Linked DNA regions of Homo sapiens. The protein of the gene in region 3 purifies or fractionates together with the protein of the main gene of each other region. This does not show direct contact. Each region holds a gene or a part of one and is shown on either strand. Other genes may lie near its edges. The genes, in order: DHX32, COQ8A, NT5C3A, ALDH18A1, PCK2, SUCLA2 and IARS2.

Evidence for each region.
Region 1: the proteins of NT5C3A (region 3) and DHX32 purify together in Homo sapiens (affinity purification with mass spectrometry; one large-scale study listed by BioGRID and IntAct). This does not show direct contact.
Region 2: the proteins of NT5C3A (region 3) and COQ8A purify together in Homo sapiens (affinity purification with mass spectrometry; one large-scale study listed by BioGRID and IntAct). This does not show direct contact.
Region 4: the proteins of NT5C3A (region 3) and ALDH18A1 purify together in Homo sapiens (affinity purification with mass spectrometry; one large-scale study listed by BioGRID and IntAct). This does not show direct contact.
Region 5: the proteins of NT5C3A (region 3) and PCK2 purify together in Homo sapiens (affinity purification with mass spectrometry; one large-scale study listed by BioGRID and IntAct). This does not show direct contact.
Region 6: the proteins of NT5C3A (region 3) and SUCLA2 purify together in Homo sapiens (affinity purification with mass spectrometry; one large-scale study listed by BioGRID and IntAct). This does not show direct contact.
Region 7: the proteins of NT5C3A (region 3) and IARS2 purify together in Homo sapiens (affinity purification with mass spectrometry; one large-scale study listed by BioGRID and IntAct). This does not show direct contact.

Annotation. Positions count from the first base shown.
Region 1 is NC_000010.11:125,874,793-125,878,292, forward strand, and holds part of DHX32 (putative pre-mRNA-splicing factor ATP-dependent RNA helicase DHX32), read right to left. Parts: intron 1-3,500.
Region 2 is NC_000001.11:226,978,294-226,981,793, reverse strand, and holds part of COQ8A (atypical kinase COQ8A, mitochondrial), read right to left. Parts: intron 1-3,500. UniProt on the Homo sapiens protein: Atypical kinase involved in the biosynthesis of coenzyme Q, also named ubiquinone, an essential lipid-soluble electron transporter for aerobic cellular respiration.
Region 3 is NC_000007.14:33,056,277-33,059,776, forward strand, and holds part of NT5C3A (cytosolic 5'-nucleotidase 3A), read right to left. Parts: intron 1-3,500. UniProt on the Homo sapiens protein: Nucleotidase which shows specific activity towards cytidine monophosphate (CMP) and 7-methylguanosine monophosphate (m(7)GMP). CMP seems to be the preferred substrate.
Region 4 is NC_000010.11:95,605,441-95,608,576, forward strand, and holds the end of ALDH18A1 (delta-1-pyrroline-5-carboxylate synthase), read right to left. Parts: intron 1,504-3,136; coding exon 1,322-1,503; 3' UTR 501-1,321; downstream 1-500. UniProt on the Homo sapiens protein: Bifunctional enzyme that converts glutamate to glutamate 5-semialdehyde, an intermediate in the biosynthesis of proline, ornithine and arginine.
Region 5 is NC_000014.9:24,097,311-24,100,810, forward strand, and holds part of PCK2 (phosphoenolpyruvate carboxykinase [GTP], mitochondrial isoform 1 precursor), read left to right. Parts: intron 1-892; coding exon 893-1,077; intron 1,078-1,164; coding exon 1,165-1,368; intron 1,369-1,738; coding exon 1,739-1,926; intron 1,927-2,247; coding exon 2,248-2,410; intron 2,411-2,684; coding exon 2,685-2,903; coding exon of another isoform or gene 2,904-2,995; exon of another isoform or gene 2,996-3,443; intron 3,444-3,500. UniProt on the Homo sapiens protein: Mitochondrial phosphoenolpyruvate carboxykinase that catalyzes the conversion of oxaloacetate (OAA) to phosphoenolpyruvate (PEP), the rate-limiting step in the metabolic pathway that produces glucose from lactate and other precursors derived from the citric acid cycle.
Region 6 is NC_000013.11:47,942,274-47,945,773, forward strand, and holds the end of SUCLA2 (succinate--CoA ligase [ADP-forming] subunit beta, mitochondrial precursor), read right to left. Parts: intron 1,173-3,500; coding exon 1,098-1,172; 3' UTR 383-1,097; downstream 1-382. UniProt on the Homo sapiens protein: ATP-specific succinyl-CoA synthetase functions in the citric acid cycle (TCA), coupling the hydrolysis of succinyl-CoA to the synthesis of ATP and thus represents the only step of substrate-level phosphorylation in the TCA.
Region 7 is NC_000001.11:220,139,132-220,142,631, reverse strand, and holds part of IARS2 (isoleucine--tRNA ligase, mitochondrial precursor), read right to left. Parts: coding exon 3,493-3,500; intron 2,450-3,492; coding exon 2,343-2,449; intron 830-2,342; coding exon 684-829; intron 1-683.

The DNA.
Region 1 (3,500 bases), on a different chromosome or scaffold from region 3:
GAGGTAAGAAAATAGAAATACATAAAAATAGAGAAAGACAGAGAGAAACAGAGCCACAAATAGATGGATAGAATGAGACGTGTGTATATTGCACTCACATACATTTATTTCCTTGTTGTGTCCACTGAGATGGCCTAAAAGCAATGATAGGCCGGGTGAAGTGGGCCTATAATCCCAGCACTTTGGGAGGCCAAGGCAGGTAGGTTGCTTGAGCCCAGGAGTCCGAGACCAACCTGGGCAACATGACAAAACCCCGTCTCTATAAAAAATACAAAAATTAGTTGAGTGTAGTGGCACACACTTGTAGTCCCAGCTACTCTAAAGGCTGAGGTGGGAGGATCACTTGAGCCCAGGATGTTGAGGTTGCAGTGAGCCGTGATCATGCCACTGCACTCCAGCCTGGGTGACAGAATGAAACACTGTCTCAAAAAAAAAATTGCAATGATAAACCAATGGTAATAGGTACTTAGTGTCCAGATCTTGGTTTCAAAACACAGTTCACCACTAAACGGAACAAGGACTCCTGGAGAAAAAAAAAATGGTTTCTACACCGGCATGCGGAATGTACTAGATGAACCTGGAACATCTTACTGAGCCAGAAAGCAAAGAAGTGCTCAATAATGGGGAAATGTCAAAAGGACAGAGAAGCCACATTGGGGGCAATTTGAACAACAAAGTAAGTAGGCTTAGTAATACATTATAACCCATAGAATAAAATAAGAATTTATGAGTCCACATTGACATAAATAAATGATGAAGGAGAGAAAGCTCAGACTTACAGAAAGATTCTAAATAATGTGTAGAAGGCATGTCAGAATTAGAATAATCATCTTTGGTTACTACTAATGTAATAATTCAAAGGTAAGAATCACCAAAAATGCTAACACTAGTGGATGAATGTGAAACTGCCTTTGCAGAAATTGTAACAGTGAGAAAATTATGATGGTGAAGGAGATCTGACCTGACAACTCCATCTTGCCTTTCACCCCCAAACTCCCTTAGCCATTCCTGCAGTGGGCCAAGCTAACTTTTGTAGATAGTTTATAGTTTAAATGATGACAGCAAAATGAAACTGCCTTTGTAAAACTAATGAAAGGACACCAGGTTAGGAGGATGAGAGGGGCCTGAATTCTGCCAAGATGTAGGTGTAGTTAAATGATTACCAGTCATTATTCCAGAGGTCACAAGATTTGTAACCTCCCTGTAAATAACATCACTATTATAGAACCTAAGATTGGCCTTCTGAGATGTCTTTTCAGGTTTTTGTATTTCTGACAACTGGAGGCCCTATAACTGGATAGACCAGTAACTCCTCTGTTGTCCCTACCCAGAAGTGGACTCAGCACATGAGGACTGTTTTCCACACCTCTGTGATTGCATCCTCAGCCAATCAGCAGTACCCATTCCTTAGCCCCCTGCCCACCAAACTATCCTTGAAAAACTCTAGCCTCCAAATTGACAAAGAGGCTGATTGGAGTAATAGTACAACTCCTGTCTGCTGTTTAGCCAGCTTTATGTGTATTAAATTCATTCTCTATTTCAATTCCCTTGTCTTGATAAATTGGCTCTATCTTGACAACAAACAAGATGAACCCATTGGGTGGTTACAAATGTATAATGAGAAACATTTACATACTTTCAAAATATGTATCTATTAAATGATTGGAGGGAAATTGTTAACTTTTCAATAAAGAACCAGGCAGATACCACCTTACCAAGGGATCAGAATTAACATCACCAGCATGGGCAAAACTGACATCTTGTGCCTCCTGATATGAGGCACTGAGAAGGATACACAGCACTTGTGTGATCTTCTTGCCACAAATGCAGAGCCGGAACCTAACCCTAAGGAAACATCAGACATGTTCAAACTGAGGGAGGTTCTGCAGAATATATAACCTGTGCTCTTCAAAAATGTCAAAGTCATAAAGGACAGGGAGAGACTGGGGAGTTGTGTCAGATTAAAAAACGACAATAAAATACAATGCAATTTTAGATTGGATTTTGGACCAGAAAAACAATTTTTTTCAGTGATTATAAAGGCTATCAATGGGAAACTGATTAAATGTGAATGTCTAGAAATCAGATAATAATTAGATATCAACATTACATTCCAGATTTTGATAATTATGTTACGGCTACACACTGTTTTTCAGTAAATAAATACTCTGTTAAGTATTTGGAGGCAAAGGGCATCATGTCCTCAACCTACCCCTAAATGGTTCAGAATAAAAATGTGTATGAATGTATGGAGGGGGCAGGGAGGGAAAGATAAAGTTTATATGGTAAAATCTTACATTTGGGGAATCTGGGTGAACAACATATGGAAAATCTTTGTACTATTTTTGCAACTTTTTGTAAGTTTGAAATTATTGTAAAATAAAAACACATTTTTTCAATGTTATTTGTCCACAGAAACTAGGAAAATTATACTCAGTCAGTTCTCATCGTTAGCTTCTCGTAATGAACTGAAATCGTTTGTTATAACAATAACAGCGTAACAAAGAACAAATCATAATAAACCTTTGATACTGGCAGCTGTAAATCAGATAAAAAACATCTGTTGTCCAGCCCTCCTCTTTTCAAATTACCTTTAAAGTAAGTTAACTTTAGGGCAGGTACAGTGGCTCATGTTTGTAATCCCAGCACTTTGGGAGGTGAAGGTGGGAGGATCGCTTGAGCCCAGGAGTTCGAGACCAGCCTGGCCAAAATTGTGAAACCCTGACTCTACTAAAAATACAAAAATAAGCCAAGCATGATGGTGCATGCCTGTAATCCCAGCTACTCAAGAGGCTGAGGCACAAGAATTGCTTGAACCGGGAGACGGAGGTCATAGTAAGCCAAGACTGCCCCACTGCATTCCAGCCTGGGTGACAGAACGAGCCTCTCTGTCTCAAAAAATAATAGTGATAATAAAATAGGTAAACTCTAGAGATAATAAACAACTTGAAAGCAACAATTTATAGTAGAAAATATTCTTTTAACTCCAATTCAGAAAGCTACTGACATTAGATAGACAAATTATCAAATCCTTCTGGGCCACAGTTTATTCATCTGAAAAATGAAGGGGTTCCATCAGTTTCTAATTCTATTCTATTAGAGCATAGTCTATTCTACTAGATCTATTCGTAACTTCTCTATGAGAAATGGGACTTCTTATTATTCACACTATATGGTCTATTCTAATTCTTACATCGCGAGAATCTAGAAATGAATTTCATGATAAAAATACTGGTTGCTTGCTTTAAAACTTAAGAGTAAAATATGGATCTCACTTGAACAAAAACTTGAAGTCCAAATACAACAACAAACTGAATAATAAGTATTTATTAACTATCTAATGTTGGGGCTCAGGACATACCTCCCCAGAATATGACTGAAGGAGACCAGAATATGTGACCCCAAAATATGCCTCCTTTGCACATTTTGAGAAAGTGTAGACATAGGAGTAGCTCTGAAAAGTTACCTTTTTAAAGATAAATTTGTGCCTATACAAGAAA
Region 2 (3,500 bases), on a different chromosome or scaffold from region 3:
GTGCACACACAAACGCACACACACAAAGGGCCTCTCCCTTCCATATGGGGACCTGGCGGGCCGTGACAGGGCCATGGTGCTGCCTGTGGCTGGAAGGGGCGTGGGAGTGGGAACCAAGAGGGATGTAGGGACCCAGAGGACCCCAGGTGAGGAGGTGCCGAGCCTTTGCCCTGTGCACCCCCACCCAGGGCACTGCACAAAGGCCCGCTGCACCTGTGGGGTCGGCATGCATTTGCACATGGGGCCAAGTGGCTTCAGCCAGAGGGCTGTCCTCAAGGGAACGGCGCTCAGGCCAAGGGCAGCACAGCCCAGGGGTGCCCGTCTCTCCCGTCCACCCACAGAGGCCCCCTGCAGCTCAGTGCAGCCAGCTGGCCAGTGATGAGCATGCAGTGACCCCAAGGGTGCAGGTGGCCTTTTTCCAGTCCACCAAGGGGAGGGCTGAGGGCCGCGACTCAGGAGCAGCAGAAGGCCGGCTAAGTCAACTGCCAGCAGGCGTGTGGCCCAGGGCTGCTGGGTCCTCTCTAGCTTCCCCCCTATCCTGGGCCATCAGTTCAGTGCTGCCTAGACATGGAGGTGCCCCTATCCAGAGGCAGACAGAGGCCTGAGCAGGGATCTGGGGCTCCAAGTCTTTCCACCTTCCCTGAGTTCCTCAGCACCCCTTGTCGCCGGGCCTCCAGCCCTTGTGACATTCGGAGCTTCTCCTGCCTTCTGTCCTGTGAATCTAGTTAGATCTCAAGCCCCAAGAGGTCGCAGTGCGGCTTCCTCCTCTCTGGCCCCCACAGCACCCAGCATTTGCCTCAGTTCAAATCACTTCAGGCCTGGCACAGCGCTCGGGTGGCACGGAGCCAGGTCCCCAGCAGGGGAAGAGAGAGGTGACCGTGCCACTGCCCTCTGCCCCGGAGCCGGGTGCAGCCTGGCCCCTGAGAAACCAGGGTGGGGCGGGCCGCCCTGAGAATGGAGGCCCTGCGGGCCCGGAAGAGGAGCCTCGGAGAAGACCCGCATCTGCCCACACATGCAGGCAGCTACGTGGAAAGGGGCCAGGCTCACTCCAGGGTCCCAGACAGCAGGAAGGGACCTGTGAAGGTGGGAGATGTTAGCTCTGCGGGAAGAGGCTGAGCTGCCCTGGGAGGCTGAGCTATGACCCATGGGCAGAGCGAGTCCAAGAGGGCTGGGCCCAGAAGGGTCCCTCGGCCACCCCCTTGCCTTAGGCAGCAGCAGACGCCAGCACCAAAGGAAAGGCAGTCAATGTCCCCTCTGCCCCCTAGGCCTGTGGTACTTGTGGGCTGGGGGCTTGGGCCTGGGTCCCTGGGGAGGGGCAGGCAGAGAGGCAAACCTTGAGGAGAGGCCACTGCCCCAGGCCAGAGGAGGGACAGTCTGTCTCCTCATGACACACAGAGTAGGCCTAGGCTAGCAGCAGCACTCCTGAGAGATGGGAACGGTGCCTGGCCCAATCCGGGCTTTCCCAGGTAGCCCATTGGCAAAGCTGGTCAATGCCACAGGCTGGAGGTATGTCCCCCACCCAGGCAGGGCTGGCTGTGAGAATGACCTGGCAAGTGGGGATGGGCCCAGGGCTACGGCAGTGTGCCCCCAGCTCAGGAAAGGTCCTTCCAGGGCAGAGCTCAGCCAGGGTGGCCGGTGTCCTCCAGTCCAGAGGGTGCCAGGGCCTGGTCAGGAAGCTGGAGCACAGTTTGGGGCTGCCCAGGGCCACCCCACTCCAGCCTAAGCCTCGGGTCCCCCTCTCAGGGCTAACAATGCCTGGGCCCCTTAACCCCCAGCCTGGGGTCACCACTGTCCCTGACAAAGGACACTAGCTGTAACTGTGAAGCCAGCCTGGCCTCTTCCCTGCTTGGATGAGGTAGTCTGGAGAACAGCCAGCTTTGGAGAGGACAGTAGGGGACAGTAGGGGAAGGCTGGCTTCTCCTTCCAGAGAAACCCAGGCTTCATTTCCCAGAGAGTGTCAGCACCAACGCTAAAAATACCCTTGCTAAGCCCTCCGTCCTCAGCCCCTTCCAAGGACGTGCATGCCGCCCGTGTCCCCAGGACTCAGTCCGGGCCTGTGGGATGGACTAGTGCCCTTGCCCCAGAAGGCAGCGTTGGTGGGTGAAGGGGGGCTGTCCGGGGACTGGCAGGGCCCCCAAAGGAGGCTAGCCCAGGCTGGAAGACAGGGCTGTGAGGGCTGCAGTGTGGCCAGACACTGGGTGTCTCTGGGGGTCCCCATGGACGGGGGTGGAAGGGCGTGATACCAGAATGAGCTGACATTCCCTGAATGGGCCGGGGCCAGGGGACTTGGCCCAGAACTCCAGAGGCATTGAGGAAGATCCACACGCAGACGGTTCCCTTGGCACTGCTCTCCACACCCCAGGCCCCACTAACAGGAAAGCCCCTGCTGGGCTGACCTCGCACCTACCTGGCCCGCCCCCCGTGCCTGAAGAGGCCTGAGGAGGAGCCCGGCCTGGTGTTCACAGGCAGAAGGCGGCAGGGACTCAGTGCGCCCCACTCCTCATCACAGCAGCACGAATGCCCAAAGCCTCAGCGTGGTCCGTTCGCAGGACCTCTCCACAGAGGGCCCGGCCACAGCGGGCCACCAACCTCAGTGGGATGAGTGTCCTGACCTGACCACCTGCCTGACCCTGGCTGTGACCTTCACGTCAGAGGTGAGGTGCCTCTGCATAGACTACAGCCTCCCCAGGTTACTAAGCTGGTGAGGAGAAGCCTGCAGGGTCTGCCTGCACACCTCGCCTGTCCCCAGCCACACCTGACCCGGCCAGACCAGCGACTTCCAGAGAGCAGGGCAGCAGCAAAAGGTGGGTTTACAAGGAGGTGTGCGGGTGTGTGGAGGGTAAGGTGTGTGGGTGTGTGGTGGGTGTGTGGAGGGGTAAGGAGGTGCAGTGTTCAGTGGGTGATTGGTGGGTGTGTGGAGGGTGTGTAAGGTGGTGTGCAGGTATGAGGTGGGTGTGTAAGGAGGTGTGTGCATGGAGGGTGTGTAAGGAGCTGTGCGGGTGAGAGGTGGGTGTGTACGGAGGTATGCGGGTGTGAGGTGGGTGTGTAAGGAGGTGTGCAGGTATGAGGTGGGTGTGTGGAAGATGTAAGGAGGTGTGCAGGTGTGTGGAGGGTGTGTAAGGAGGTGGGCAGGTGTGTGGAGGGTAAGGAGGTGGGCGGGTGTGTGGAGTGTAAGGTGGGCGGGTGTGTAGAGGGTAGAGTGTGTGGAGAGTGTGTAAGGTGGTGTGTGGCTGTGGGGGGTGTGTGGAGGGTAAGGAGGTGCAGTGTTCAGTGGGTGTTCGGTGGGTGTGTGGAGGATGTGTAAGGAGGTGTGCAGGTATTTGGTGGGTGTGGAGGGTGTGTAAGGAGGTGTGTGGGTGAGAGGTGGGTGTGTGGAGGGTGTGCAAGGTGTGCGGGTGTTTGGAGGGTATGTGGAGGGTGTGTAAGGAGGTGTTCGGGTGGGTGGAGGGTGGGTGGAGGATAAAGAGGTGTGCAGGTGTGTGGTGGGTGGGTGGAGGGTG
Region 3 (3,500 bases):
CAGGTCCTAAAAAGTCATAAATCTAAGCACTGATATAAATTAGATAAAAATTGAGATATGGAGATATTTTAAAAGTCTGTCCAGGTATGGTGGTTCACACCTATAATCCCAGCACTTTGGGCAGCCAAGGCAGGAAGACTGCTTGAGCCCAGGAATTTAAGACCAGCCTGGGCAAATAGTGAGACCCCGTCTCTACCAAAAAAAAAAAAAAAAAAAAAAAAAAAAAAAAAAAAAAAAAAATTTAACTTAGCCAGGTGTGGCGCCACATGCCTGTAGTCCCAGCTACTTGGGAGGCTGAAGTGGGAGGACTGCTTGAGCCCACGAGTTTGAGGCTGCAGTGAGCCATGATCGCTTCATTGCACTCCAGCCTGGCAGCAGGGTGAGACCTAGTCTCAAAAATAAAATAAAATAAAGTCTATTTGATTCACTAAAGCAGTTGTTTAAAACTTGGGTTGCTTCTCCCTTCTTTTTTAAAACACAGACTCAATAGTGGGCTTTCGATTCACTCAGTATAATACCCAGAAAACATGTGATATTTTCTTTGTTTTTTTTGAGATGGAGTTTTGCTCTTGTTCCCCTGGCTGGCGTGCAATGGTGTGATCTCCGTTCACTGCAACCTCCGCCTCCTGGATTCAAGTGATTCTCCTGCCTCAGCCTCCCGAGTAGCTGGGATTACAGGCATGTGCCACCATGCCCGGCTAATTTTTTGTATTTGTAGTAGAGATGGGGTTTCTCCATGTTGGTCAGGCTGGTCTCGAACTCCCAACCTCAGGTGATCCGCCCGCCTTGGCCTCCCAAAGTGCTGGGATTACAGGTGTGAGCCACCGCACCCGGCCCTTTTTTGTTTTTTTAACTGCTCCTTGAGGAGCAGGGCTAACTCATAGGCAATGCACCCAGAGTTGGCCTATATTGTCTTAAAGTGGAAGAAGGGAAGAAGTTTTTGTTAACAGTTTATTTACTAGGACCAGGCACAGTTGGTACACACCTGTAATCCCAGCATTTTGGGAGGCCAAGATGGGTGGATCTCTTGAGCCCAGCAATCTGAGAACAGCCTGGGCAATGTGGCAAAACCCCCATCTCTACAAAAAAATACAAAAATTAGTTGGGCGTGGTGGTGCGTGCTTTAGTCCTGGCTACTCTGAAGGCGAGATGGGAGGATGGCTTGAGCCCAGGAGGTGGAGGTTGCAGTGAGCTGAGATTCAACCACTGCACTCCAGCCTGGGTGATCGAGTGAGACCCTGCCTCAAAAAGAAAATAAAATAAAAAAAGAAGTTTATGTCCTAGAAAGAAACACAGTATGCTAAAGTTTTAAAAAAACCACATCAGCTACTTAAGTAATAGTTGACATTAACAACAAAGCAATAAATTGTTGAGATATGTTTAAATTGGAAATGACCATTTTTAACTGGTTGTAGAGGTTCTAGTGATCGTTCCATCTCCCCTATCCCCCACATCAGCTACTTAAGTAATAGTTGACGTTAACAACAAAGCAATAAATCGTTGAGAGATATATTTAAATTGGAAATGACCATTTTTAACTGGTTGTGGAGGTTCTAGTGACCATTCCATCTCCCCTATCCTGCTGTCTAAATAATTTCCTCCCTTCCTCGTTGGTTTTTAGGGGCTAAGCTTAAGACTACACATTCATTCTAGTGTTGTGCTTGCATTTTACTTCACTGGATAAATACTCTACTTTAGAGAATTTAATAAAGGATATTAGAATAACTGAATAAGATTAAGCAATCTCATTTTTTTTTCCTTTTGGCTCTTTCTTTGAATTCTAGTCTCATCCTCTTTTTGGTAGCTTTATTAGAGAAAAACTGAAAATTTGCTGATAAAAATAGAATACATTCTGATATTGCAGGAGAAATTAGAAAAGAAGTCGGTATGTAACATTTGAAAGAGGTGTCATTTAGTAGGAAAAATCAGATTAACTGGATAGAAGTAATGAATGAAGTAGGTGGAGGCAATTAATCTAAGGCTGTAAATAATAAGATGTAATATAATGAGAATATGGAGAGTAAGTAACTATAATTCAGTATGAATAGTACACTTTTATTATTTTTTTATTTTATTTTATTTTATTTTGAGATGACATCCTGCTCTGTCACCCAGGCTGGAGTGCAATGGTGCAATCTTGGCTCACTGCAACCTCTGCCTCCTGGTTTCAAGCGATTCTCCTGCCTCAGCCTCCCAAGTAGCTAGGATTACAGGCACCCGCCACGACGCCCAACTACTTTGTTTTTTTATTTTTAGTAGGGACGGGGTTCCACCATGTTGGTCAGGCTGGTCTTGAACTCCTGACCTCAGATGATCCACCCGCCTTGGCCTCCCAAAGTGCTGGGATTACAGGCGGGAGCCGCCGCGCCTGGCCCAGAGTAGTACACTCTTTCAGAAAGACAGAGATGTTCCGTATTCCCCTCAAAAGGCATCTGTCCACATCTCCCCTAGAACTTTGCTAGACTGATTATTTTTTCTCCTCCTCTTATCTTTAACCATTTGCTTTTCACTACTCCTCTGCCCACCAACATACTTCTGTGCCAACCATTCGAAAAACAAAACAAAATACCCATCCTCAGCACAACTACTTCCTCTGCCCAAAAGTCATTTTTTAGTTGTCTTCACATCATTGTTTTACCAACGGCGGCTCAACCCACTGCTACCATAGCCTTTCAGACCAACTTCTGATCTTGTCATCAACTTCTGACCTTAGAGAAGATGGACATAGCTAATTCTGCCCCTTCTTTTGGAAACATTTCCTGTTATTCCACCTCTGACAGCTTTCAGCATCTTTACTGAACTTGGCATTGCCAAGTTTTCTGTTTTCTTCTCGCTGTAAAACTATGGATGAGAAATAATATCCAGCTCCACACTGGCCATTGAGAGGCTAGACATTAGGGAAAATATTATTTCTAGCCTCAATTTATCTTTAGAGCTCCAGCCTTCCATTTTCAGTTGCTATTGCTAATAATAACAATAAGTAATGTATATATTGGTTACTCTGGGCCAGGCACTTTTCTAAGCACTTTAAATATATTAACTATTTCATGAACATTTCTAGTTGGTCATTCCTTGATCATCTCAAATTTCATATGACTTAAAGTGAACTTGTGATTCCACATTTCCCTTACCTCCTGGCTACTTTCCAAACCTGCCATTTTTTCCTTCTCTTCATCTTGGCTAATAATATAACCAGAATCAGCAGTTACCTGATAATCTTAAAGTTATTTCTCCTTACAATTAATCCCTTTATCTAATGATCACAAATAATAAGCTCTGAAAGAAAGCAATTATGTTCTAGGCACTGTGTTATCTCATTTAATCTTCACAACCTATGAAGTAGGTACTATCATTATCTCCCAATTAATAGATGAAAAATGGGAGATTCAGAGAGGTTAAGTAATTTGCCCAAGGTCACATGGCTTGATAAATGAGAAAAACTAGATTCAAAACTAGGTTTGTATGACTCTACAGTCTGTGCACAAAGTCCCGTTGATTTT
Region 4 (3,136 bases), on a different chromosome or scaffold from region 3:
AAGCGAGTGCTTATTTCTTTAGGAGGCCCCCATGAAATCTTTCAACTGCAGACTGTCAGGCACCAGGGGCCCTAAGGACAGGAGCTAGAGATGGAGGGAGAGTGGGGAGGGTCCGAGCTGTCAAGTGATCCTGAGGCAACAGGACTGGCAGGGAGGAGCTGGGGGGATGCAGTGAACTAAGGATGTCAGCTGGGGCTATGTGCCACCGCGGGAGCTCGCTCAGGTTGGACCCCACCAACTTCAGACCTTCACTGCACTTTTAGTCTTCAAGCTCTTGGGGCTTAATCTCCTGTTTTCCTTTCCTGTCTCTCCGTCTGAGTCCCTCTGTGGGGACTGCCTATGTTGCTTCCACCAACAAACACTGTTGAGGCAGATGTCTTGTCTCCCCAGACAGCTTCCAGAGAAGAGACCATGCCCACAAGCAGGGCACGAGGGTCACAAGAGAGGAAAAGGAAGGGGGTAACAACAATTAAGGGAGAAAACTTCAATCACGCACAGGCTTTTCATAAAAAACTTTATTTCTCAAAAAAGGGGGAAGAATCCAAAGTATTAAAATAATCCTCTAATTTTTGTTTTGGAGGAAAAGGGTAGGACGACAAAATAATTCATACAAAAATTTCAAGCATCACTGCTGTAGATATTCCTCCAGCTCAGTGGGGAACATCCTGAAACTTGCATCTCCTGCTGCAGCTTGGGTTCCAGCTGCATCACGGGGAACACAGCATCTCCTGGATGCAGGAAGCTGCAAGCATCTGGAATGCTTATTAATTTACCCCACAAATAAATACAAAAGGTCAATCTTCCCAGTGGAAATGATTCCATCGATTTTTGTGACTTTCTGATGAGAATGCTAAAAAGAAGAGTTGCCCCTTTTCTAAAATTCCAAATCTTTCCTTTTTGAAGATGACTACATGTGAAAGAAATAAAATGTGAAAAGATTTGTTAAGGATGACTGGCTCTAGTACCAACTAAATGCCAAGGGGGACTGTAAGTCACTGAGGTGACACAAAGCAGCCATGGGTTTTCCTCGCCTTTTTTATGGGGAAAATGCACCTTTCAATCCTAGAAGATAATTGGACTTGGCAAAGTCCCTATCGGTAGCAACTATTTTCTTACTTTAAAAAAAAAGGGTGAGCTGGGAGCCAGACTGTGCACATCAGCCAAGACTGCTATTGCCAAACGGAGCCCAGAAGCATCCAGGTACACTTTCCAACAGGCAGACCCTACCAGGAACTGGGAGACAAGAGCGGGCTCTCTCCTGAGATAAGACAAGTTTAACGTGAAGACCTTTTGGAAAATTCCCGGGTTTTCCTGGCTCTTTTCAGTTGGTGTTTCTCTGAGGAATAGGGAGGTTCTCATGAAGATATTTTAAACTTCCATGCTCTGAGAAATCTGAGACCACGTGGTCCTTCCCTCGCAGCAGCCACTTAGTAGTAAGCAGTCCCTCAAGTCCTACTGGTCCCCGGGCGTGGATTCTCGATGTACTGATTCCCACTTCAGCTCCTGTGAAAAAGCATGAATAAAAGATGTAGCTTTTCCCAGCCTCTGCTTCCTGTCCATGCCCCAGACCCACCCTGCTGCTTTCCCCTCACTTGGTACCCTCTCTTCCTGCTAACTCCTCATCCATCCTCCCCAGAAGAGCTGAGTCACCCTGTTCCCATAAACATGTTCTTCGATTACTACAAATCATGATACACTCCTTCTCGTGAAACAGTGTGTGGACTCTTCTTCTGTATTTTATCCCCAGTGCATTTTGACAATGCTATTAATACAAGTGCTGTCTCTTTTATCAGTTTAGCATCTGAATTGCATACCATATTTTGACATTTGGGCATGTTTTGAGGGGTACGACAATGTTTACCATGATGGTTTCACCTCCTCAAATACTCTTTAAATCTTAGAAAGAAAGGGACATGTTTGTGGTATCCCCTAGAAGTCTTAGCACAAGGGACTCATTAGACAGTTACTGAATACATCAAAGGGTTACTGTTCATTCCCTTTTCTCTTGCTCCCAGCTCAGACCTAGGGAACGTCAGGGGTTTTCCTGGCCCTGGCTTGGTGTTCTGCACTGTATACAGTGGAGGCAGGGTTCCCTCAATCATCACAACTTTACTGAGCATGTACTATGTACTAGGCACTGTGTTGAGCCCTGGGGATAAAGTGGTGAATAATAGATACAAGGCCCTGTTTTTGTGGCGCTGATATTATAGCAGGCGAGGCAGCCAAAGGACAGGTGAGTAAATAGTCTCCTGTGGTGCTCAAGTGCAGTGATGGGTGCTATGACAGAGGCTGTGTGGTGGAGCTGGGGACACGCTGGGTAGGATGGTCAGGGAAAGCCTCCCTAAGGAAGTGCCTTTTGGTTGGGACCTGAACAGTGAGAAGGAGCTGGCTGGAGAAAACCAGACAGAGGTGCTGCAGGCAGAGAGAAGAGCAAGTACGAGACACAGTAGGGGCGGGATGTGCTTGGGGTAGTGGTTGGCAAGGAGAGTGAAACCAGCAGGATTCAAATTCTGGTTCAATAGCATACAGACCACATGACTTTGGACATACTACCTAACTTTATGTCTCATGCCTCAGTTTCTTCATCTGGAAAATGAGAATTCATCTTGTAGAATGAAGTGAGAGCATGCTTGCGACACATTTAGCACAGTGCTGGGAATGTAGTAAATGCTCAGTAAAATCTGTTACTGTCATTAATGCATTTCACAAGGAATTTAACTCAACCAGCTTTCACTCTGAGCTGGTGTTGGAAGGACAATGAAATGATCTTTTGTTCTTCCTTCATCCTGGATTTTCATTTGAATGCTGGGTGCCCCAGCCCTTAAAAATATGTTGCTATTTCTTTTTCAAGTACATGGAGAGTATAAAGATCAATGCAAGTGATGTGATAATTACATCAAAATCCCAACATAATACAAATGGGGAACTAAAAATAAAGAGTATCATGATTAAGAATAACTGAGTTAAATTCCCTTTCATAACCTTTTAACAATTTGGTGAGAATTATTTCTCCAGGCAGATCATCTACTCAAAAAGTTCAGAAGGATTAAAATGTGTGTCTTTCTGTTTTGTTTTGTTATACAGATAGGGCCTCACTCTCTCCCAGGCTGGAGTACAATGGCATCATCTTAGCTCA
Region 5 (3,500 bases), on a different chromosome or scaffold from region 3:
GAGGCCAAGGCGGGTGGATCACCAGGTGTCGGGAGTTTGGGACCAGCCTGACCAACATGGAGAAACCCCGTCTCTACTGAAAAAAAAAAAAAAAAATACAAAAATTAGCCCAGCATGGCAGCGCATGCCTGTAATCCCAGCTACTTGGGAGGGTGAGGCAGGAGAATCACTTAAACCCAAGAGGCGGAGGTTGCAGTGAGCCAAGATCGCGTCATTGCACTCCAGCCTGGGCAATAAGAGCGAAACTCTGTCTCAAAAAAAAAAAAGAAAGAAACTGGGATTTTTTTTTTTTTTTGAGATGGAGTCTCACTGTATCACCCAGGCTGGAGTGCAGTGGCATGATTTCAGCTCACAACAACCTCTGCCTCCGGGGAATTGTCTCAAGCAATTCTCCTGCCTCAGCCTCCGGAGTAGCTGGGATTACAAGCATGCGCCACCACACCCAGCTGATTTTTGTATTTTTAGTAGAGACAGGGTTTCACCATGTTGGCCAGGTTGGTCTCAAACTCCTAACCTCAAGTGATCCACCCACCTCAGCCTCCCAAAGTGCTGGGATTACAGGCATGAGCCACTGCGCCCAGCCTAGTTTGTAGTTTGTATTTTATTTTAATGTTAAATGAAGAAGCTGATATAAATAAGATCCTTTGCTTTTTTTTTTTTTCCTCACCAGTTCAGGGAGCTTTTGCCAGGGGCAGAGACCCCCAGAGGGCTGGGACCTTGGGGAACACCCCTTAGATGGGACAAAGCCTGGAGGAAGGGACTGAGATGTGATTGGGTGGGGAAACATAAGGCCAACAGAAGACCTGGAGTCAAAGTTGGACTTGAAAAAGTGGGTCTAGGGACAAGGGAAACCTGCTGGCCACCATCTTCCTGACAATCCCCTCTCCCCCAGCTGGCTGGCCCGCACAGACCCCAAGGATGTGGCACGAGTAGAGAGCAAGACGGTGATTGTAACTCCTTCTCAGCGGGACACGGTACCACTCCCGCCTGGTGGGGCCCGTGGGCAGCTGGGCAACTGGATGTCCCCAGCTGATTTCCAGCGAGCTGTGGATGAGAGGTTTCCAGGCTGCATGCAGGGTAACCAGGGCAGGGGCACAGTGGCAAGGGCACGGAAGATGTGAACAGGTTTGGAACCCTTCATCCAGGGGATGCCTTCCTCCACAGGCCGCACCATGTATGTGCTTCCATTCAGCATGGGTCCTGTGGGCTCCCCGCTGTCCCGCATCGGGGTGCAGCTCACTGACTCAGCCTATGTGGTGGCAAGCATGCGTATTATGACCCGACTGGGGACACCTGTGCTTCAGGCCCTGGGAGATGGTGACTTTGTCAAGTGTCTGCACTCCGTGGGCCAGCCCCTGACAGGACAAGGTAAGCACCTGCTCTGCCCCAAGGGGAACACAGAGGCCTTCTTGTACTCAGAGGAAATCCCAAATCCTACCTCTCCACAGACCCTAAGAACCTGTCCTCTCTGGCAACCTAATTCCCAAGATCCAGAGCAGCAGTCCCAGCAGAGGGATAAGGCTGTGTTTGCAGAGCACTTTGCACTAGGTTGAGAAAAATCCGTGTCCAAGAATAGGGGCATGGAAGCTGATGGTTATTATGAGGTGGGGGGCTTCAGCCACCTCTTGGTGCTGCTACTGCTCCCAAGTGTCTCTCCTGCCAATCCCTGATCCCTCTGGCCCCGACACCCCAGTTCCTGATGCTGCTGCCAGCAGCCCCATGACCCCATTGTCCCCAGGGGAGCCAGTGAGCCAGTGGCCGTGCAACCCAGAGAAAACCCTGATTGGCCACGTGCCCGACCAGCGGGAGATCATCTCCTTCGGCAGCGGCTATGGTGGCAACTCCCTGCTGGGCAAGAAGTGCTTTGCCCTACGCATCGCCTCTCGGCTGGCCCGGGATGAGGGCTGGCTGGCAGAGCACATGCTGGTGAGGGCCTGGTGAGAAGCAGGGCAGCTGCCGGGGACAGGGCAGGGGTGGGGCCTGGCCAGTCTGCCTCAGCCTCACCTCCCTCCTGCCAGGTGCCAGGCTGGTGGGCGGGGACTCTACTTGAAGGCCCAAAGCTTTGGCCTCAGGCTGCTGAATGTTGAGGTTTCCCCTGCCACTAACCCAGGCCTGATGGCAGGGCAATCACTTATATAGTTAATAAACATTGGTCCTCCCTATTAGACCCTAGCTGCCCTTCCCCATGCAGACCATGCCCTGACTTTTGGTGACCTCTTTCTTATTCCCTCTCTCCCCAATGCACAGATCCTGGGCATCACCAGCCCTGCAGGGAAGAAGCGCTATGTGGCAGCCGCCTTCCCTAGTGCCTGTGGCAAGACCAACCTGGCTATGATGCGGCCTGCACTGCCAGGCTGGAAAGTGGAGTGTGTGGGGGATGATATTGCTTGGATGAGGTTTGACAGTGAAGGTGAGGGACTCTCAGATCATACTCTTGGTTCTGGCTCTTGTCAGAGCCTCGGGGTCTCCTCTCTAGTGTTCACAATGACTTTGTCAGTGAGAAAGTTTCCTGAACACCCAACCCTGCTCCATTCCTCTGGCAGCCCAGCCACCCGAGAGACAGCCTTTCCTCATCAGATCTTGGGTCCATCTCAGGACAGGGGTGGGTGGAGCAGGACCTTCTTTGGTCTTACATCTCAAGTTTTCCTTGTTTGGTCCTTCCTTTCTTTCACTTCTCCTAACAGGTCGACTCCGGGCCATCAACCCTGAGAACGGCTTCTTTGGGGTTGCCCCTGGTACCTCTGCCACCACCAATCCCAACGCCATGGCTACAATCCAGAGTAACACTATTTTTACCAATGTGGCTGAGACCAGTGATGGTGGCGTGTACTGGGAGGGCATTGACCAGCCTCTTCCACCTGGTGTTACTGTGACCTCCTGGCTGGGCAAACCCTGGAAACCTGGTATGTGCGGTGGGGAAGGTGTGGCACAGCCTCCAGGCCTCAGCACCTTAATGGTGGAAAAGCTTTCTCCACAACCTCCAACCATCTTCTAGGACTGCCAGGAGGCACAGAAGTCATGAACGTTTGCAGTTTCCAGTCCCAGGCAAAATCTCAGTTCATGTCCCAACTCCACCAGTCACTGGTTTTGTGATCTGGCTAAGTTGCTCAACTTCCCTAAGCTTTAGTTTCCACATCAGTTGAATGAGGGTAGTTGTGATAGTACCTATCTCATGAGATTGTTGGAGGATTAAATAGTGCATAAAAAGGGTTTATCACACTGACAAATACACAGTAAATTCTCAATAATAAATACAGGCTGGATTTTTTTTTAATGAAAGGAAAAGGAAGGACTTTTGAACATTCTTACAGAAGGTATTGGGCTCCAAGCACTATCCATAAAGTTTGGCCCATTAGGAAAAGAGGAAAGCTGCCTCCTCTGCTCCAACTCTCCTCCTGCCACTTGGCTCCCACTGTCCCCTGTATAATAACCACTGTCTAAAGGTCAGTATTGTTACCGTCACCCTTCCCCTGTCCCTCCAAAGCATTCACCCCAATCCT
Region 6 (3,500 bases), on a different chromosome or scaffold from region 3:
GATTGCTTGAGCTCAGGAGTAAGAGACCAGCCTAAGCAACATAGTGATACCCTGTCCCTACCAAAAAAAAAACAAAAATCAAAAACAAAAAAAAACACATATGTTTTTTTGTGGTGTGTGCCTGTAGTCCCTGCTACTTAGGAGGCTCAGGTGGGAGGACTGCTTGAGCCCAGGAGGCAGAGGTTGCAGTGAGCATGATCATACCACTGCACTCCAGCTTGGGTGACAGAGTGAGACCCTGACTCAAAAAAAAAAACAAATCACTGTCATGGCAAGTATATGATCTAAGAATTGGTGCTTAGACCTCTATACTGCAATAACGAACAAATCAACTTCTACTGTGTTTACCTCAAAACAAGCAAACAAAAGCCATGAACCCAAATCATATTGGGAGATTTTTATTAACTTAAATTGACATTCTTAATTTTGTCTGTAAGTCCTTGGTATATATGCCTTTATTTGAAGCAAACCTACAGGTGTTTCTTAATATGACAGAATCATGAAGACTTGCAGTTAATCAGTGTTTCCTAATGATTAAAACAATGTTCAAATAATTACAAAGTTACTTCATCAAAATACTTAGAAGAATATTCTGAGGAGTGTTTGAAAGCTCTGTTTATAAATAGTGATTGATACATTTATCATGTATTTGGTGCTGAAGATAAACACTTTTTACATAAAACATTGTTTTAATATACTGCTCTACTAATGAGGCTAGTTATTAGATATACTGTATTTTAACACTAAAGAATAAAGCTTTATCTTCGTATTTATCTTATTTATAGGACTCTTATCAATGAAGAACTTTGTATCCAACAATAATAAACTGGCAAATTGCAAGTTACGTTTTGTAGGAGAAGCAAAAAAGACTGGCTGCGACAAAAGAAAGAAGATAACTGCATTATACATGCTTCGTACAAACAGTCCATTCTGAATGGTACAATTAAATGCAGTCCAAATCCTTTTAAATGTTTGTGTGCCTAGATGGCAATTACAATCTCCACACACTAAAAAGAAAAAGAACAATAACACAGAACACAGTATTCTTAATGATTATAGCACATTTAACACCTTCAGCCATCCACTGGGTTTTCAGATCATATTGGCAACTGAAATTTCACATCCACATGTGCTTGCTTCGCTAAGGTCACTATTTCAGAGAGCTTTACAACCTAAAAGAAAAGAACGAAGAATTTTCACAAAAAGGTAAATTCAGAACTACAGGTCAGTGCAAAATTAATGTACACTCAATTTTTTCCATTTAAAACATCTGGACTATTCTGACATTGCTATAAATCACATTACGTTCTTATAAGCAAATGACATTCTCAAAGGATAATCAAGTCTGACACTCCTCATAGTCCAAACTTCAATTAAATACTTTCTGATTAAGATGTTATACCACCTGCTAGGATTACACATATGTATTACATAAGATTATATATGTGTGTATAAAATGTGTGTGTATGTATGTGTGTGTGTGTGTGTGTGTGTATATATATATATATTATTCTAAATTTTATCTTAAAGACAGAAACAGTGAGTGTCTTTGTTGGATACTCCACAACTCAAAGCACATCTAAGTAAAAATTTGTTTTGAAATAAGTATACAATCTTAACTTAAAATGTTGGGATAGAAATTTGGGTCTACTAGTTAGTATTTTACTTTTTGTCAGTAAGTTAACAATTGCTAACCTGAGTTCCAATTCTCTCTACAATCTGTCTAAAAATATCCACCAGTTACCATACAAAACATCATACAAATTTAGACATGTCTAAGACCAAAAAAACAAACTCAGCTTCTCTCTTCCTCAGTAAATTAGTTAAGAAAAGGCTTTGAAGTTAGATATCTTTGGCTGCAAATCCCCCCTCTGATGCTTATGACATACAACCTTGAATAAGTTAACTTATCTAGCCTGTTTCTTCATCTATAAAAATGGAAATTTTATCACCAAATTCATATTAAATGAGATAATCCTTGAAGAAAACAGCTTAGCATTGCATGCACAGTAAACACTCAATAAACAGTAGTAACTGCTAATATCATCATCATCTCATTCAATATTATTATTGTTATGACTTCTATAATCTCCCAGTCAATAAAAACACTGTAGTCATAATTTAAATCAACTGTTCACTTTTACCTCTCATGATCTATTTGATCAAGGTCCTACTGGTTCTTCTCCTTCTTTTCATGTCCTCCAAGCTTTTCTTAATTTAAGTTTTCATTCCAAAAAAGTGCACTTTCAGAGACAAGTTATAACCTATTTATTACCTTCACCTTTTCTCATATCTAAGTATTGCACTAGATGGACTCCTACTATCTCTCCCCTTTTCCCTTCAATATATCCCACATCTCAAAGTCAAAATAGGCTTTCTGAAATACTTTCTCCTACTATTCCCTTGCTCAAATTCTTTATTTTTAATTCAGGTTTAAGTTTAAATTCTTCTGTCTCCAAGCTAGAGTTAAATTTTGTTTACTAGTAAGTACTTTCCCAAAGAAGGACATAAGACTTTTATTATTTTTGTGAAATGACATCACATTAACTCGGTAAATTCAAGAGTCTGGCCAAGCCTGGGGGCTCATGCTTGTAATCCCAGCACTTTGGAAGGCCGAGGTGGGAGGATCATATGAGGTCTGGAGTTCGAGACCAGCCTGGTCAACATGGCAAAACCCTATCTCTACTAAAAATACAAGGCTGGGCGCAGTGGCTCACACCTGAATCCCAGCACTTTGGGAGGCCGAGGCAGGTGGATCACAAAGTCAGGGGTTCAAGACCAGCCTGACCAACATGGTGAAACCGCATCTCTACTAAAAATACATAATTAGCCAGGCATGGTGGTACATGCCTGTAATCCCAGCTGCTTGGGAGGCTGAGGCAGGAGGATTGCTTGAACCTGGGAGATGGAGGTTGCAGTGAGCCGAGATCACACCACTGCACTCCAGCCTGGGCAACAAGACCAAAACTCTGTCTTAAAAAAAAAAAAAAAAAAAAAAAATTAGCTGGGCGTGGTGGCACACACCTGTAGTCTCAGCTACTCAGAAGGCTGAGACACAAGAATTGCTTAAACCCAGGAGGCAAAGGTTACAGTGAGCTGAGATCACGCCACTGTACTCCAGCCTAGGTGACAGAGCAAGACTCAGTCTCAAAAAAAAAAAAAAAAAAAAAATCAAGAATCTACTATTGATTAAGCTATAGAGCCCAAAGAGTGTTCGAGTGTTCAATGAAATGTCTATAAACATAATGGAAGGGAAGACAAAAAATTCTCATCTCTCTGTATCTACTATGAAGTGTTCTCTGATACACATTATTGTTAAGTAAAAGAAACAAAGTATAGATTACCATTAATCTAAAGTGGGAAAAGGGAGACACACACACACACACACACACACACACACACACACACACACAAAGTCCCCCCCTTATCCAATTTCACTTTCTACAGTTTCAGTTACCTGCAGTCAACTGTGGTCCAAAAATTTTAAATGAGAAATTCCA
Region 7 (3,500 bases), on a different chromosome or scaffold from region 3:
TCTTCCTACACTTCTATAGTTTCTAATTTTTATAAACTTAATACAATCAGAAGAAAACAACTAACATAAAACTCACTAAAAGCACTATATTTTGTTTTAATACAACCTAAAATATATTTCAGAACATTTTTTTTGACAGTCTTGCTCTGTCACCCAGGCTGAAGTACAGTGGCATGATCTTGGCTCACTGCAACTTCCACCTCCCGAGTTCAAGCAATTCTCCTGCCTTAGCCTCCCAAGTAGCTGGGACTACAGGCACCCGCCACCACCATGCCCCACTAATTTTTATATTTTTAGTAGAGATGGGGTTTCGCCATGTTGGCCTGGCTAATTTTGAACTCCTGACCTCAAGTGATCTGCCCACCTCGGCCTCCCAAAGTGCTGGGATTACAGGTGTGAGCCACCATGCCAGCCATTTCAGAACAGTTATAAAGGTATTTAAGAAAAAAGGTGATTTCTCGACACTGTCAAGCTGCTAATACATTTCAGAAAGCACAGAATTCTGAAATTTACCCTACTCCTCTACAAATAGGTGCAGAAACAAATACATGACCAAGACACACTGTGTCACACAGCAGTCACTGTAAATGGATAAGTGCCCCTTTTATGAAGCAGATAGAAGTAGAAGTTGCACCTTGATCAGGGATATTTCTCATTAAGAGAATAAATGAAGTATTCCTTACCTTTAATATAAGGTATGTGCTGGAACACCTCTTCAGCCAGGTGAGGAAGAATGGGAGCAAAAGAACGAACTATTACATCCAAAATTTCAACTAATGCAGTCTGACAAGAGCGTCGTTTGGGGTCATTTTCCTTTTCACAATAGAGCCTGAACAAGAACAACTTATTCAGCAGTTGACAATACTTTATACATTATGGTCACCTAGATGGGACCTGCCTCAGGTTGAGTTTATTCCTAGTGGCTAATCCTATGGCTCTAATCATCTTCTACTTAAAGAATACAATACACTCTCCTACAATTTTACTCCGTCCAGGTGTACCCACCTCCTTGAAAGCACTCATGGCTACGCTATCTCATTCTGTTTCTCAGGTGGATGACAACTAGAGTCTAGACTACTGTATTAAAGGACTATGAATAAGTTAGTTGATGGTATTTAACATGTGGCTCCCACCCACTCCAATGTTATTAGTGTTTTAAGGGAAGGAGTAGGAGTTATAATCCCTATGTGCAAGGTCCTTGGGGTGCTGACAGGCTGAGGATAACGCCTCAGACTGGACTCATTACCATGAAGGTAGGACCGTCACCTGCACACTGGAGCAACAGATGAAGACTTGGCATCAAGGCCTCTTCTACAAGGATACTGCTAATATTATACACTGTTACCATATAATTGCACATATATATCTCTCTCTTCCCCTCAGGATTTGAGAACTCCTGAGAACAAGCATTATGTTCATCGTCTGATATTAGTAGTGATGATTTTTTGAACACTTTATCAAGCACAGCTTTAAGCACATTATTGCTTTTCCTTCTCAATCACGAGGTAAGTATTATTATACCCATTTTACAGATGAAGAAACAGATTACAGAATAAGTTGCCCCAAATCAGAAAGCTAGTAAGCGGGAGGTCAAACCTTTATACTCAGACTTGACTCCGGAACCCAATCTTTTTTTTTTTTTTTTTTTGAGACGGAGTCTTGCTCTGTCGCCCAGGCTGAAGTGCAGTGTCACGATCTCGGCTCACTGCAAGCTCTGCCTCCCGGGTTCACGCCATTCTCCTGCCTCAGCCTCCCAAGTAGCTGGAACTACAGGCACCCGCCACCACGCCCAGCTAATTTTTTGTATTTTTAGTAGAGACGGGGTTTCACTGTGTTAGCCAGGATGGTCTCGATCTCCTGACCTCGTGATCCGCCCGCCTCGGCCTCCCAAAGTGCTGGGATTACAGGCGTGAGGCACCACGCCTGGCCCGGAACCCAATCTTAATAACTGCACAACACTGCCCATCTTGCTCATCACTGTATCCCTGACGGTTGCCAAACACAAGTAGACACTCAAAAAATACTTGTTGAGGTTTTGTTGTTGTTATTTTTTGAGACGAGATCTTGCTCTGTCACCCAGGCTGGAGTGCAGCAGCACAATCTCTGCTCATTGCAACCTCCGCCTCCCAAGTTCAAGCGATTCTCGTGCCTCAGTCTCCTGAGTGACTCGGATTACAGGCATGTGCCACCATGCCCGGCTAATTTTTGTATTTTGCCATACTGGTCTCGAACTCCTGGCCTCATGTCATCCACCCGCCTCGGCCTCCCAAAGTGCTGGGATTACAGGCGTGAGTCACCACACCTGGCCATTGTTAAGCATTTTAATATTTAGTCATACATACCTATCTTTGATTATACTGAAATAAAAGTTAGAGAGCTCTCTGGTATAAAACGTCCGTAACAGCCGAACAACTTTTCCAAAATCATATTGTTTGTATAATTCGGTAATCTAGGGAACAAAGCCAAAATAAATTTGGAAGCTGAGACAGGCAAATGAAAATGTAAGTCATCACAAGCAAAATATGCTCCTTTCAAAAATATGTTTCAATGAGACAAATACAAAACAGGCAATATGCAAGAACTCCTGGGAATCTTCCAAATGTCATTTCTGGATAACACATTTGACTACACTCAGAAAATACTATTTTACTCTGAGAACTACGAAAGGACATTAATTAAGGAAAGAATGAGATTGTAAATAACAAAATCACACCATTTTAACAACAGCAAACAGTGGACGTCACCAACAATTCATTAGTGTTCCTTCATTTATGCCTCATTTATTTTTGATTTGGGCAAAATTGGTATGTACACCTCTGACTTAAGGGTACACTAATGCAAACACATTTCCAATTATGAGAAAACACAATTTTTTTTTTTTAAGACAGGGTCTCACTCTGTCAACCAGGCTGGAGTGCAGTGGCACAATCACAGCTCACTGCAGCCTCAAAACCATGGGCTCAAGCGATTCTCCTGCCTCAGCCTCCCAAGGAGCTGGGACTACATGCACTGGCTAACACGCCTGGCTAATTTTTAAAATTTTTCTAGAGATAGGTTCCTGCTCTGTTGCCCAGGCTGGTCTTGAACACCTGGCCTCAAGCAATCCTCCCACCTCGGCCTCCCAAAGTAGTAGGATTTATAGGTGTGAGTTTCCACACCCAGCCAGAAAACAGAAATTATTTAAGTCTATATGAAAATGAGTAAGTATCTTATGAGACAAATAGGATAGTCCATTTTGGTTATTTCTGTACTTTATTATGAGGAGCACATGTGCAGATAAAGTATAACTCCACTTTATTCCTTCTTGTTGGAAAAATAGAGCTAATCATGAGAGAAAAATCTGGTCCGAGGGGAAGTCTGGACATATTTCTCTTCAAGAGTGCTATAGTTACTATTTCCAGCAAGGTCTGTTCCACTCAGATAAAACTAAAATTTTAACCTACAATAGTGCTGATATTTCTAGTTTCCAAAAGTTTATTAATTTACATTTACCTTGTTTG